2 linked regions of the Homo sapiens genome follow. The protein of the gene in region 1 interacts with the protein of each later gene in a biochemical or structural test. Each region holds a gene or a part of one and is shown on either strand. Other genes may lie near its edges. The genes, in order: RGS19 and OSTM1.

Region 1 (4,129 bases):
AGGGCCTGGGGTGCCCAGCTGGCGAGGGGGTCGAGGGCATGGGGCCAAGCAGACCCAGGAGGGGACCCAGTGGTGGCTTCCGAGGCATCCCCGCAGGCAGGATGCCCCTGCCACCTCACAGCACTGTCCTGTCCAGGGTCTGTTGGGCCCTGGTGATGAGTGGCCGGTGCCTTGGCCCCAGGGAGCTCATGTATGGCTCTCGTACCTGTCTTGCCAAGGGTGTGTCCGTGTGCTGTGTACATGCATGTGCCCGTTCACGCGGCATGTGCTTTATCCATGCTGCTGTGAGCCAGCCCAGGCTAGGCCCTGGGGGCCTGCGGTGGAGTAAGACAGGCACAGGCCAGGTGCAGTGGCTCATGCCTGTAGTCCCAGCACTTTGGGAGGGCAAGGTGGGCGGATCACCTGAGGTCGGGAGTTCGAGATCAGCCTGACCAATGTGCAGAAACCCTGTCTCTACTAAAAATACAAAATTAGCCAGGCGTGGTGGCGCATGCCTGTAATCCCAGCTACTCGGGAGGCTGAGGCAGGAGAATGGCTTGAACCTGGGAGGCGGAGGTTGCGTTGAGCCGAGATCGCGTCATTGCACTCCAGCCTGGGCAACAAGAGCAAAACTCCGTCTCAAAAAAAAAAAAAGAAAGAAAGAAAGAAAGACAGGCACAGACCCCATACAGTGTGTGGGGTGGAGGGACGTTTGAACAGAGACCCCAATAAGGGAACTGCTGGCCCTGGGGCGATGGCCAAGAGCTTCCCGGACAGCATGCGTGGGGGAAGAAGAGCAGGGGGCGGTGGCGGGGACGTCTCTGGGCATCCCTGTGAGGGTGGGAGTGGGGCTCCCAGATGGTAACAGATTTCCTAGGAGTGTAGGGGAGCTGGTGGATGTTTTCACACCTTGCAGAAGCCTGGCCCTATTCAGGCTTCAGGCCCTGGCTGATGAGAGGACAGCGCTTCTGGATCCAAGGTGGCGTCAGCTGACCCACGGGCAAGCTGGGGGTGGCCAGGGGGCAGTCGGGAAAGGGGGTGGGAGGAGCCCAGGGGCCTAGTTCTGTCAGGACGTTTGGGTGCACGATGTCTGCCAGCCATCCAAGTGCCCTGGAGAGAGGTCAGCCGGGTATGGATTTGGGTCCAGCACTGACAGGATGCTAGGAGCCAAGGCAAAGAAGCTGCTTCCCTTGAGACAACCGGGGATCAGGCTCCAGAACCTGAAGGAGTGTGGACACGGGTTTGGGGCTCTCACCTGCGTCAGCCGACGAGAGACACTGCTGACACGCCAGACCTGCAGCGTGTGACCCCATCGGTGGGACAGGGACAGGCCAAGATCAGGCCCAGGAGCAGGGTGGCCCTGTTCCCAGGCACATTCCCATGGGTGGCCCTGTTCCCAGGCACATTCCCATGGGTGGCCCTGTTCCCAGGCACATTCCCATGGGTGGCCCTGTTCCCAGGCACATGACCCTTCTGGCCTCCCAGGTGTTCAGGGATCTCCCAGCTCCTTGTGGCCCCTCATCTTGCCCCACCCCATCTCCCCCAGGGGAGCAGAGGCAGAAGGGGAGGTGGCATACCTGCTTCTCAACCTCATGTGGGGTGGGCATGGGTGGGTGGAGGAGGTTGCCCAGTGGGCCAGGGATGGGGAGGAGCACACCAGGAGCCGAAGGGCCCCTCCTGGAAGGCCAGAGACTCGCGGGCACTGGGTCACACTGCTGGAATGGAAGACGGCAGAGTCTGTGGTCTGGGCACTGTGGCAGGGACAGTAACCTGGACTGCAGATTCTGTGGGGAATTTGGGAGTGTGGGAGAGTGTGGGAAGAGCCAGCTCCAGGGGCTGCCCTCCTGCAGTGGGTGCCCATGTGTGTCAGGTGCCTGCAGGGGCTGCCCTCCTGCAGTGGGTGCCCATGTGTGTCAGGTGCCTGCCCATGTGCTGAGGGCCTGTGTGGCCGTGGAGGCGTGTGTGCCCACGGCAGCGCTGCTTCCTCTCTGCCACTAGGAACCAAGAGCGGCGGCGCGCGTGGCAGGCCTCCCGGGAGAGCAAGCTGCAGCCCCTCCCCAGCTGTGAAGTATGGTGAGTCCAGCCGGCTGGTGTGTGCGTGCTGGGGGGGCCCCAGACCGGGAGACTCGGGCCTGACATAGCCTGGCCCCCGTGCCCACAGTGCCACGCCAAGTCCTGAGGAGGTGCAGAGCTGGGCGCAGTCTTTTGACAAGCTGATGCACAGCCCAGCGGGACGCAGCGTGTTCCGGGCGTTCCTGCGGACAGAGTACAGCGAGGAGAACATGCTCTTCTGGTTGGCCTGCGAGGAGCTGAAGGCCGAGGCCAACCAGCATGTGGTAGACGAGAAGGCGAGGCTCATCTACGAGGACTACGTATCCATCCTGTCCCCCAAGGAGGTGCGCCAGACACCAGAACAGGCCGGGGGCCGCCTGCTCCAGGCACTAGGTGGGGAAGGCAGCTCCCGCACCCCCTGACCTCAGTGTCTTGTCCTGCAGGTGAGCCTGGACTCCCGTGTGCGGGAGGGCATCAACAAGAAGATGCAGGAGCCGTCCGCACACACGTTCGACGACGCGCAGCTGCAGATCTACACGCTCATGCACCGGGACTCCTACCCCCGCTTCCTCAGCTCTCCCACCTACCGTGCCCTGCTGCTGCAGGGGCCATCACAGTCCTCCTCCGAGGCCTAGGCCGCCCCCAGCAGCACAGACCCCGCCGCCTCCTACGGCCGACTCTGGGTTCCCTTCAGGTGTTGTTGTCGGCAGGGCTGTCAGGGCACATGCCTGGCCGGCTGGGGTCCCCACCCGCGGAGACGGTCCTAGACCCAGTGGGGAGTGCTGTGTCTCCTGGGTCTGCCCACCCGTGGCCAAGCAGGAACTCCAGGTGCAGGGCGGGCCTCCAGGTGCAGGGCGGGCCAGAAGCCCCCTCATCGGCCCGCAGCTGGCTGGCCCAGTGCTCCTGGCTGGGGGCTCTTGCGTGGTGAGAGTAGGGGTCCCCCCAGGAGCCATGCTGGACCCATGAGCCTCGCTGGGGCCTCCTCCCCAGGCAGCCAATGGGCCCCAGACAAGCCTTTGGTGGGGAACAGAACCTCCGCATCGTGTAGTTTTGTGACATAAGGAGACCTCCTACTTGAGCTGTCTGTACCCCAGAATCAAACACAGAACCTCAGAACCAGATTTAGGACCTCAGAATCCTGCACTCAAGGTGGCAGGACCCAATTTCTGTTTTATATGTTCATGAACTTTAAACCTGGAAACATGTCCTTACTAGGTGTTTTATCAAAAAAAAGTTTTCATATTTATCTCTATCCCTAACCCCCCAAAAATAGGATGTCTTATTATTGAAGATATTTTTAAAGCAAAGTCTCTACTCATTTTTGTCCAAGTCTGGGGAGAGACTGGAGAATGAGTGGCCCCAGACTCAGGGCTGGGGAGAAGTGTCCTTGTCCCAGGGCAGGGGCTCCAGTGCCCCTTGGAGGGGACACACAGCCGTGTGCTTGCCCTCTTCCCATGCCCTGGCCTCCACCAGACCCCTCCTCAGAACAGTGGTCCCAGTGGGTGGCTGTGCTTAACCCTGCCCGGGGCATGAGCTCCACGCCCTCGGCCTCAGCCTCCTTAGCTGAAAGTCGGGCCAGAACAGTGACCCACAGCACCTCAGAAGTCGAGAGGCAACAGGAGGTGCCGCCCAGGCCCAGCCGGACGGGGTCCCCAGAGGCAGGCTGGCTGGGGCAGGAGGGGCCACTTGGTGCCAGGCCCAATGTCATCTTTCTCATCTCACAGGCCCCATGAGTTGAGTGCTCACCAGCCCATCCCCTGCATTTCTGGGAAGTTAAGTGAGTTGAAGCTGAAATTGGCTCAGGGCCCTGAGACCACAACTCCCACAAGAACAGAGAAGGCAGCATGGGGACAAGCTGTCCTGAAGTGCCGAGAGGTCCCGAGCTGCCCATGCCTGAGGCGTTGGGGAGGACACTGCCCTGCACAGGACGCACACAAGACCCTCTCCCCACCTGCCCTCACAGGCAGAGCCGCCCCAGGTGATCTCTGAAGGTCAGCCAAGCTCCTCTCCTGGGGCTGACCCACCAGGGCCAAACCCAAGCACTGCCCAACCCCAGGGAGGGGCCTTGTCCACAGCAGTGGAAACGGGTCAAACATGG
Region 2 (7,291 bases), on another chromosome or scaffold:
ACCCAGCTCAACTCACCCTGATGTGAAAGGAAGTGGATAAACAGGTGAAAAGAGGCAGGGAAACTTTTTTTGTATTTTCTCTCCAACTCATCCTAGGCCTTGGTCTCGGCTCGCCTTATTTCCCCAGTAGAGCTGGATATGATTCATTAGCTCAAAAGTGTGACATCTACAGTTCTGAGGTACTTTATAGATTTAAAAGGCTATATGGACTGGTTTGGGAGTTGAACCATCATGTATAATAATGAACTTATGAGGCCAGGTGTGGTGGCTCGTGTCTGTAATCCCAGCACTTTGGGAGGCCAAGGCAGGCAGATCACCTGAGGCCAGGAGTTCGAGACCAGCCTGGCCAACATGGTGAAACCCTGCCTCTACTAAAAATACAAAAAAAAAAAAAAAAAAAAAAAATTAGCCGGGTGTGGTGGTGCGCAGCTACTCAGGAGGCTGAGGCAGGAGAATTGCTTGAACCCGGGAGGTGGAGGTTGCAGTGAGCCAAGATAGTGCCACCACTCTCCAACCTGGGGGACAGAGTAAGACTCCGTTGCAAAAAAAAACCAAAACAAAACAAAACAAAAACCTATGGAAAAATGTGTCATGAGTGAACTTGAAGGAATTAGTTGTCTCTTGGGGAGGTTTATTTATCCAGTGTAGTATATTTTCTTTTCTTTTTCTTTTTTTTTTGAGACAGAGTCTTGCTCTGTTGCCCAGGCTGGAGTGCAGTGGCATAATCTCAGCTCACTGCAAGCTCCACCTCCCAGGTTCATGCCATTCTCCTGCCTTAGCCTCCCAAGCAGCTGGGACTACAGGCGCCCGCCACCACGCCCGGCTGATTTTTTATATTTTTAGTAAAGACGGGGTTTCACCGTGTTAGCCAGGATGGTCTCAATCTCCTGACCTCGTGATCTGCACACCTCGACCTCCCAAAGTGCTGGGATTACAGGTGTGAGCCACCACACCCAGCCCTTTTTTTTTTTTTTTGAGACGGAGTTTCCCTCTTGTTACCCAGGCTGGAGTGCAATGGCGGGATCTCGGCTCACTGCAACCTTCGCCTCCCAGGTTCAAGCGATTCTCCTGCCTCAGCCTCCCAAGTAGCTGGGATTACAGGCGCCCACCACCACGCCTGGCTAATTTTTGTATTTTTAGTAGAGACAGGGTTTCACTATGTTGGCCAGGCTGGTCTCAAACTCCTGACCTCAGGTGGTCCACCCGGCTCGGCCTCCCAGAGTGCTGGGATTACAGGCGTGAGCCACCACGCCCAGCCTATCCAGTGTAATGTATTTTGTTTGACTCAGACTCAGTCTTTTATTGAAATCAGTTTTTAGCAAGCACCTACTATTCTTGAATATTGGGCTGGTAAAAGGATAAGAAGGAAAAGAAGGGTAAGATTCAGGCCTCAAACTATCAGTATAGTTAGGGGAAATAAAATACCTTATATGGGGAAATAGGAAAATATCAGTGAGTGTTATAAATTGTACCATAGCAATTTAGAACAAAAGAGTGAAAGGAATGCCAAGTTAAAGGAGGGAACAGAGCCAGATGCAGTGGCTCATGCCTGTAATCCCAGCACTTTGGGAAGCCGAGGCAGGTGGATCGCTTGAGGCCAGGAGTTTGAGACCAGCCTAGCCAACATGGCAAAACCCCGTCTCTACTAAAAATATAAAAAATTAGCCAGGAGTAGTGGCATGTGCCTGTAATCCCAGCTACTCAGGAGGCTGAGGTGGGAGAATCACTTGAGCCTGGGAGGCTGAGGTTTCAGTGAACCAAGTTTGCACCACTGCACTCCAGCCTGGGTGACAGAGCAAGACTCCATCTCAAAAAAAGAAAAAAAAAATGACGGAACAGAGCAAGGCTGGTTCATCAGGGGAAACCTACAAGCTGAATCTCAAGGCATTCTTTCTACCCTTCTTTAGTGTGAATGGACATGGATTGATTGAGAGAGGAGAGGAGTATAATAAGGAGAAAAAAAGAATCAAAGCCAGAAACTAGTAAGCTATTTATGTGGTACAGCAATATAATTAGTTTAACTATAATAGAATTCCCTGATAAGAATCCTAGGTTCTTGTCACTTCCTTTTAGAATTTCTGGGAGAGGGATCGCATATAGTTTCATTATCTCAAGGTGAAAAATACAGTGATTTCTGAAACCTGAATGATAGAACTGAGGGATTCCCTCTTCCTTAGAGTCATACTTTCTCCTTTTAGTTTAAACTGATAGGGACATAGTTTCATTGTGATTCAGCATTATCGGAATGGTCCTGAGGATGCTTTTGCCCCCTCAGATTCTGAATTGGTAGGCTCTGTCCTATTCTACTTGGTTTGTTTAAAATTTAGATAGTGTTTAAAATTTAGATCTATAGATCCATCCATCTACCTATCTATCTCTATCTATCTATGTATCTGTGTATCTTTGTGAAGTGCTAGTCATTTGGGTTATGTATTTGGTGAGTATTCAATATACTTTTACTGTAGATTATTAAATAATGAATTCTGAGGACTATAGGGAGAAAGCCAGAACATAGTGTAATAATCTGTGTCTTTCATTAGAGATCAGAAAATGTAATATTTCTTCTGCATTCATTCAAAAAAATTATTGAGTACCTATTATGTACAGGTTGTGGTAGCTACTAGGGATATAGCATGAATGAGCAGAGCTTGTAGTCTGAAGACAGACATTAAGCATCTCATTATACAAATAATTATTTAATTCATGTGTGATAAGTGTTGCTGATTAAAAAACCCAGATGCTACCAATGCATATGACAAGAGTGCTGATCTTGAGTATGACTGGGGGGTAGGTAGAATGGTCAGTGATTAAAGCAGACACCTACAATTTGAGAGAACACAGGCAGGGGAGGGAAGGTATACATGTAAAGAAATAGCAGGCATGAAGACTGAGATGGGAAGGAGTTTGTGGTGTATCTGAGGTCTAGAACACAGCACAGTGAGCAAGAAGGAAACCCGTGGTCTGAGCCTAAGGAAGTACACAGGTGCCAGGTCATGTGGGCCTTGTAGGGTATGTTAAGGATTTTAGACTTTGATTTTAAAGCAGTATGACGTTAGTGAAAGGTTTAATTCTGTGGAATGACATAATCAGATTTGTACTTTAAAAGGCTATGCTGGCTATGTGACAGAAAATGGAGAGGGTAGGGGCTGGGGAGGGTAGGGGAAGAAGATATGTGGGGAGATGAATTAGGAGACTGTTGCAGTGGTGTGAGAGACAGTGGTGTCTAGGCTATGTGGGGGCCATCATGATGTGGAGAAATGGGTGGATTTCAGAGATACTTAGGAGGCAGAAATTACAGGCTTGGAGGTTAATTGAATGTGGGGAGTAAGGAAAAGGTAGTGATGATTTCCAGGGTTTTAATAAGAGCAGCTTAATGAATAGGGTTGTCATTTACTGAGCTGGAGGGAGGAGTCTGTTTAGTGGGCGAAGATCATTAACTCAGTTTTGAACGTGTTGATTTTGAGGTGTTTATGAGCTTTCTAAGTGGATATATTGATTGCCTATGTGGTTGAATATACACATCTAGAGGACTGGACTAGAGATAACACCTTTGGGAGTGTCGGCATAAAAATGGCATTTGAAATTATGACATGGGTGAACATACCTGAAGAATGAGTAGGAACACTAAGAGTTTAAGATTAAATAGAGGGTAAACTCTCAAAGGTGACTGAGAAGGAAGAATTGGAGAGATAAAGAAGAATGAGGAGAGCATGATGCCCTGTAAATCAAGGAAAAGGGAAGGGGTGGTTATTTGTGTCAAATCCTGCTGAGAGAATTGGAGATATATCTGTCAACACTGGCAGTATTGGTGACACTAACAAGAGTGAATTTGATGGAGTCCTTGGGTACGAAAGTGAGATCAGAGTGGGTTGAACAGGGATTGGAAGATGAGGACATGGGAAGAGTGAACCTAGACAACTGCTGAAGAGTTTGGCCTTGATGGGGAGATAAGAAAGAGAAGTCACTAAAGAGCAATGTGGGACTCAGAGACTTTCTTTCATTTCTCTTTCTCTATTTTTTTTTTTTTTTTTTTTTTTAGACAGAGGCTCGCTCTGTCAACCAAGCTGGAGTGCATGGCACAATCTCGGCTCACTGCAACCTCCACCATCCCAGGTTCAAGCGATTCTCCAGCCTCAGCCTCCTGAGTAGCTGGGACTATGGGTGTGCACCACCACACCCAGCTAATTTTATACTTTTAGTAGAGATGGGGTTTCACCAGGTTGGCTGGACTGGTCTCGAACTCCTGACCTTAGGTGATCTGCCTGCCTCGGCCTCCCAAAGTATTGGGATACAGGCGTGAGCCACGGTGCCAGGCTGACTTTCTATCATTTCTTTCCATTCCCCTGTCCCTCCATTCCTCTGTCCTGCCTTCCCTTCTTCCTTGTCCAAGATGGGAGAGAGCTGGACATGTTTAAATGTTGATAGTAAGGGTCCTTTAGAGAAAGTGAAGATTCTGTAGGAGGGAGTGGGAAGCAGACAAGGTCAGTTTCCAGAAAAGGCAGGATAGATGGGATCTAGGGCATCCTCAGAGAGATGGGCCTTGAAAAGGACAGGTGCCTTCCCCACCTTAATGGGAGGGTAGAAGGAGAGGTTGCATGTAGGGGTAGGCAGGTTAGAGTTTCAGCTCGAAGGCTTCTGTTATCCAGGAGGCTAGATCTTCTTTTGAGAGTAAAGAGTGGGAGAGAGATCAGAGTTTCTGGGAGAGTGGAGAGGATTTGAAATAGCGGTTGTAAAAAGGAGAGAATGAGCAGACAGAAAAGTGAGGAGTACGGTTTGGGATTATGGATTTACTTTGGAATTAATCTGTGTTGTTAATTTTTTGCCAGCAGCTCCTGACTTCCTGGGTGCAGGCATGATCAAAGGAAATGGCTGGCTTCAAGATGGTTAGGGTTCTGCTAAGTAGTTAGGATAGATTTGAGTATTAAGAGTTCTAAGTATAAGCAAGGACCATTGATTTTTTGGTCACTTGGCGAGGTGTTGGGAATACAAAGATGTGACAGTTTCCATTTTAAAGGGACATCTGTCCAGAAGAGAAACCTAAACATATATAGGTGGATATCATGCTTTAAGAAACCATGCATCAGGGTAATGACGCATGGGTCCCACATTGCTCTTTAGTGACCTCTCTTTCTTATCTCCCCATCAAGGCCAAACTCTTCAGCAGTTGTCTAGGTTCACTCTTCCCATGTCCTCATCTTCCATTCCCTGTTCAACCCACTCTGATCTCACTTTCACACTCAAGGACTCCATCAAATTCATTCTTGTTAGTGTCACCAATACTGCCAGTGTTGACAGATGTACCTCCAGTTCTCTCAGCAGGATTTGACACAAATAACCACCCCTTCCCTTTTCCTTGATTTACAGGACATCATGCTCTCCTTATTTTTCTTTATCTCTCCAATTCTTCCTTCTCAGTCACCTCTGATAGTTTACCCTCTACCCAGCTAACACTACCTATTTCATAGAGTTGTTATGAGGATTAAATAAGGAAGTTGGAACATTTGGAACTGGTAAGTAGTAAGTACCTCATCATCGTTTGGATTATTAATCATTTCCTTTCTGTCCTCACTGTTGCCATCATCCTTTCATTATACCTGATCTATGGAAGTAGTGTAATGAGTCTCCCTGCCTCCTCACCCTACATATCACGGCCTAAAGATGTATTCCTCAAACTGCTTTTCATGACACCCTCCTCATAAATCTTAAAGAATTTCTCACTGGCTAACTCTCATGACCCTCACGGCCTCTCATAACCTTGTTCTAACTTAGCCCTTTAATAGCCCTACTTTCATAGACTACTGAATACTCTCCGAATACCACATAATCATTATCACTTTCACCCCATGATCATTTAATTCTTCTATTTTCGAATCCTCTTCTCTTCCTCAATATAGGGCTTAGTTCATATCCTGCTTCCTTCATGAACTCTTTCCTAATTTCTCAAAACTACATTGATATCTTCCTGAACCGAACTGTTCCACACATTGAACACTCATACAGGCTCTACTGTATTGATTTTTAAAATAGCCAGTCACCCACTTATGAAGATTCAACTTAACCAACTAATGACACTTATCCAACTAAACCTACTTAGAGCACTTCAGGTTGGCAGCATGGTAGCTAGGTGAAATAGCATATATCAGTCACTGTGTGCCAGACAGTGTGCTGAGTGATTAATGTATGCTATTTCATTTAATACAGTAACTGTAGGACCCCTGATTTTGAAACTGAACCTTAGCGAGGTTGGGTCAGCTGCCCAAGGTCACTAGCTAGTGACCCAGGCTTGTATTAATACAATATTATTACTTCTACTTAAGAAGTGATAATAGGCCAGGCATGGTGGCTCATGCCTGTAATCCCAGCACTTTGGGAGGCCGAGGCAGGTGGATCGTCTGAGGTCAGGAGTTCGAGACCAGTCAGGCCAACATGGTGAAACCCCGTCTGTACTAAAAATAAAAATTAGCCAAGCATGGTGGCATGTGCCTGTAGTCCCAGCTGCTCGGGCGGCTAAGGCAGGAGGATCGCTTGAACCCAGGAGGCAGATGTTGCAGTGAGCTGAGATTGCGTCACTGCACTCCAGCCTGGGCGATAGAGTGAGACTCCATCTCAAAAAAAAAAAAAAAAAAGTGATAATAGAAAATTTTCTTCTATGGCTGGTATTGCTCAGAAGGTAATTCTAAAAAAGAGTTTTAAAATGTTCTGTTCATGGCCAGGTGCAGTGGCTCATGCCTATAATCCCAGCACTTTGGGAGGCCGAGGTGGATGGATCATTTGAGTTCAGGAGTTCAAGATCAGCCTGGCCAACATAGTGAAACCCCGTCTCTACTACAAACACAAAAATTAGCTGGGTGTGGTGGCATGTGCCTGTAGTCCCAGCTACCTGGGAGGCTGTGGCATGAGAATCGCTTGGATTTTATATTTTAAAGCAGAAATTCTTCCTTTTCTCCCTCTTTTCTCCTTTTTTCCATTTCTTCTCCCACATGACTGACCATTTGTTTCCCAGGAGTTACCACTCTTTTATTATTCATCACACTGTATAACTCCTTGTCTGTGTAACTGCGAGAGGTTCTCAAAGCCCCAGAATTGATGGCATTCTTTTATACTTTTTATATCCTCAGAACTTCAGGATTTTTATAGTGCCTAGTAAATAGTAGGAGTTAAATAACTTTGAAAGAATTAAGGGTCAGCAGGACTTAGTTCCTTGCTTGGGGCACGAAGGAAAGGAAATAGATAAGGATCAAATGATTTGGGAACTTGGATTTATTATTTGCATAGCATGAGTTTCTTTCAT

Evidence for each region.
Region 2: the proteins of RGS19 (region 1) and OSTM1 form a complex in vitro, tested with the Homo sapiens proteins (one study listed by BioGRID).

What each region holds. Positions count from the first base shown.
Region 1 is NC_000020.11:64,072,390-64,076,518, reverse strand, and holds the end of RGS19 (regulator of G-protein signaling 19), read left to right. Parts: intron 1-1,977; coding exon 1,978-2,052; intron 2,053-2,140; coding exon 2,141-2,375; intron 2,376-2,474; coding exon 2,475-2,666; 3' UTR 2,667-3,338; downstream 3,339-4,129. UniProt on the Homo sapiens protein: Inhibits signal transduction by increasing the GTPase activity of G protein alpha subunits thereby driving them into their inactive GDP-bound form. Binds to G-alpha subfamily 1 members, with the order G(i)a3 > G(i)a1 > G(o)a >> G(z)a/G(i)a2.
Region 2 is NC_000006.12:108,064,575-108,071,865, reverse strand, and holds part of OSTM1 (osteopetrosis-associated transmembrane protein 1 precursor), read left to right. Parts: intron 1-7,291. UniProt on the Homo sapiens protein: Required for osteoclast and melanocyte maturation and function.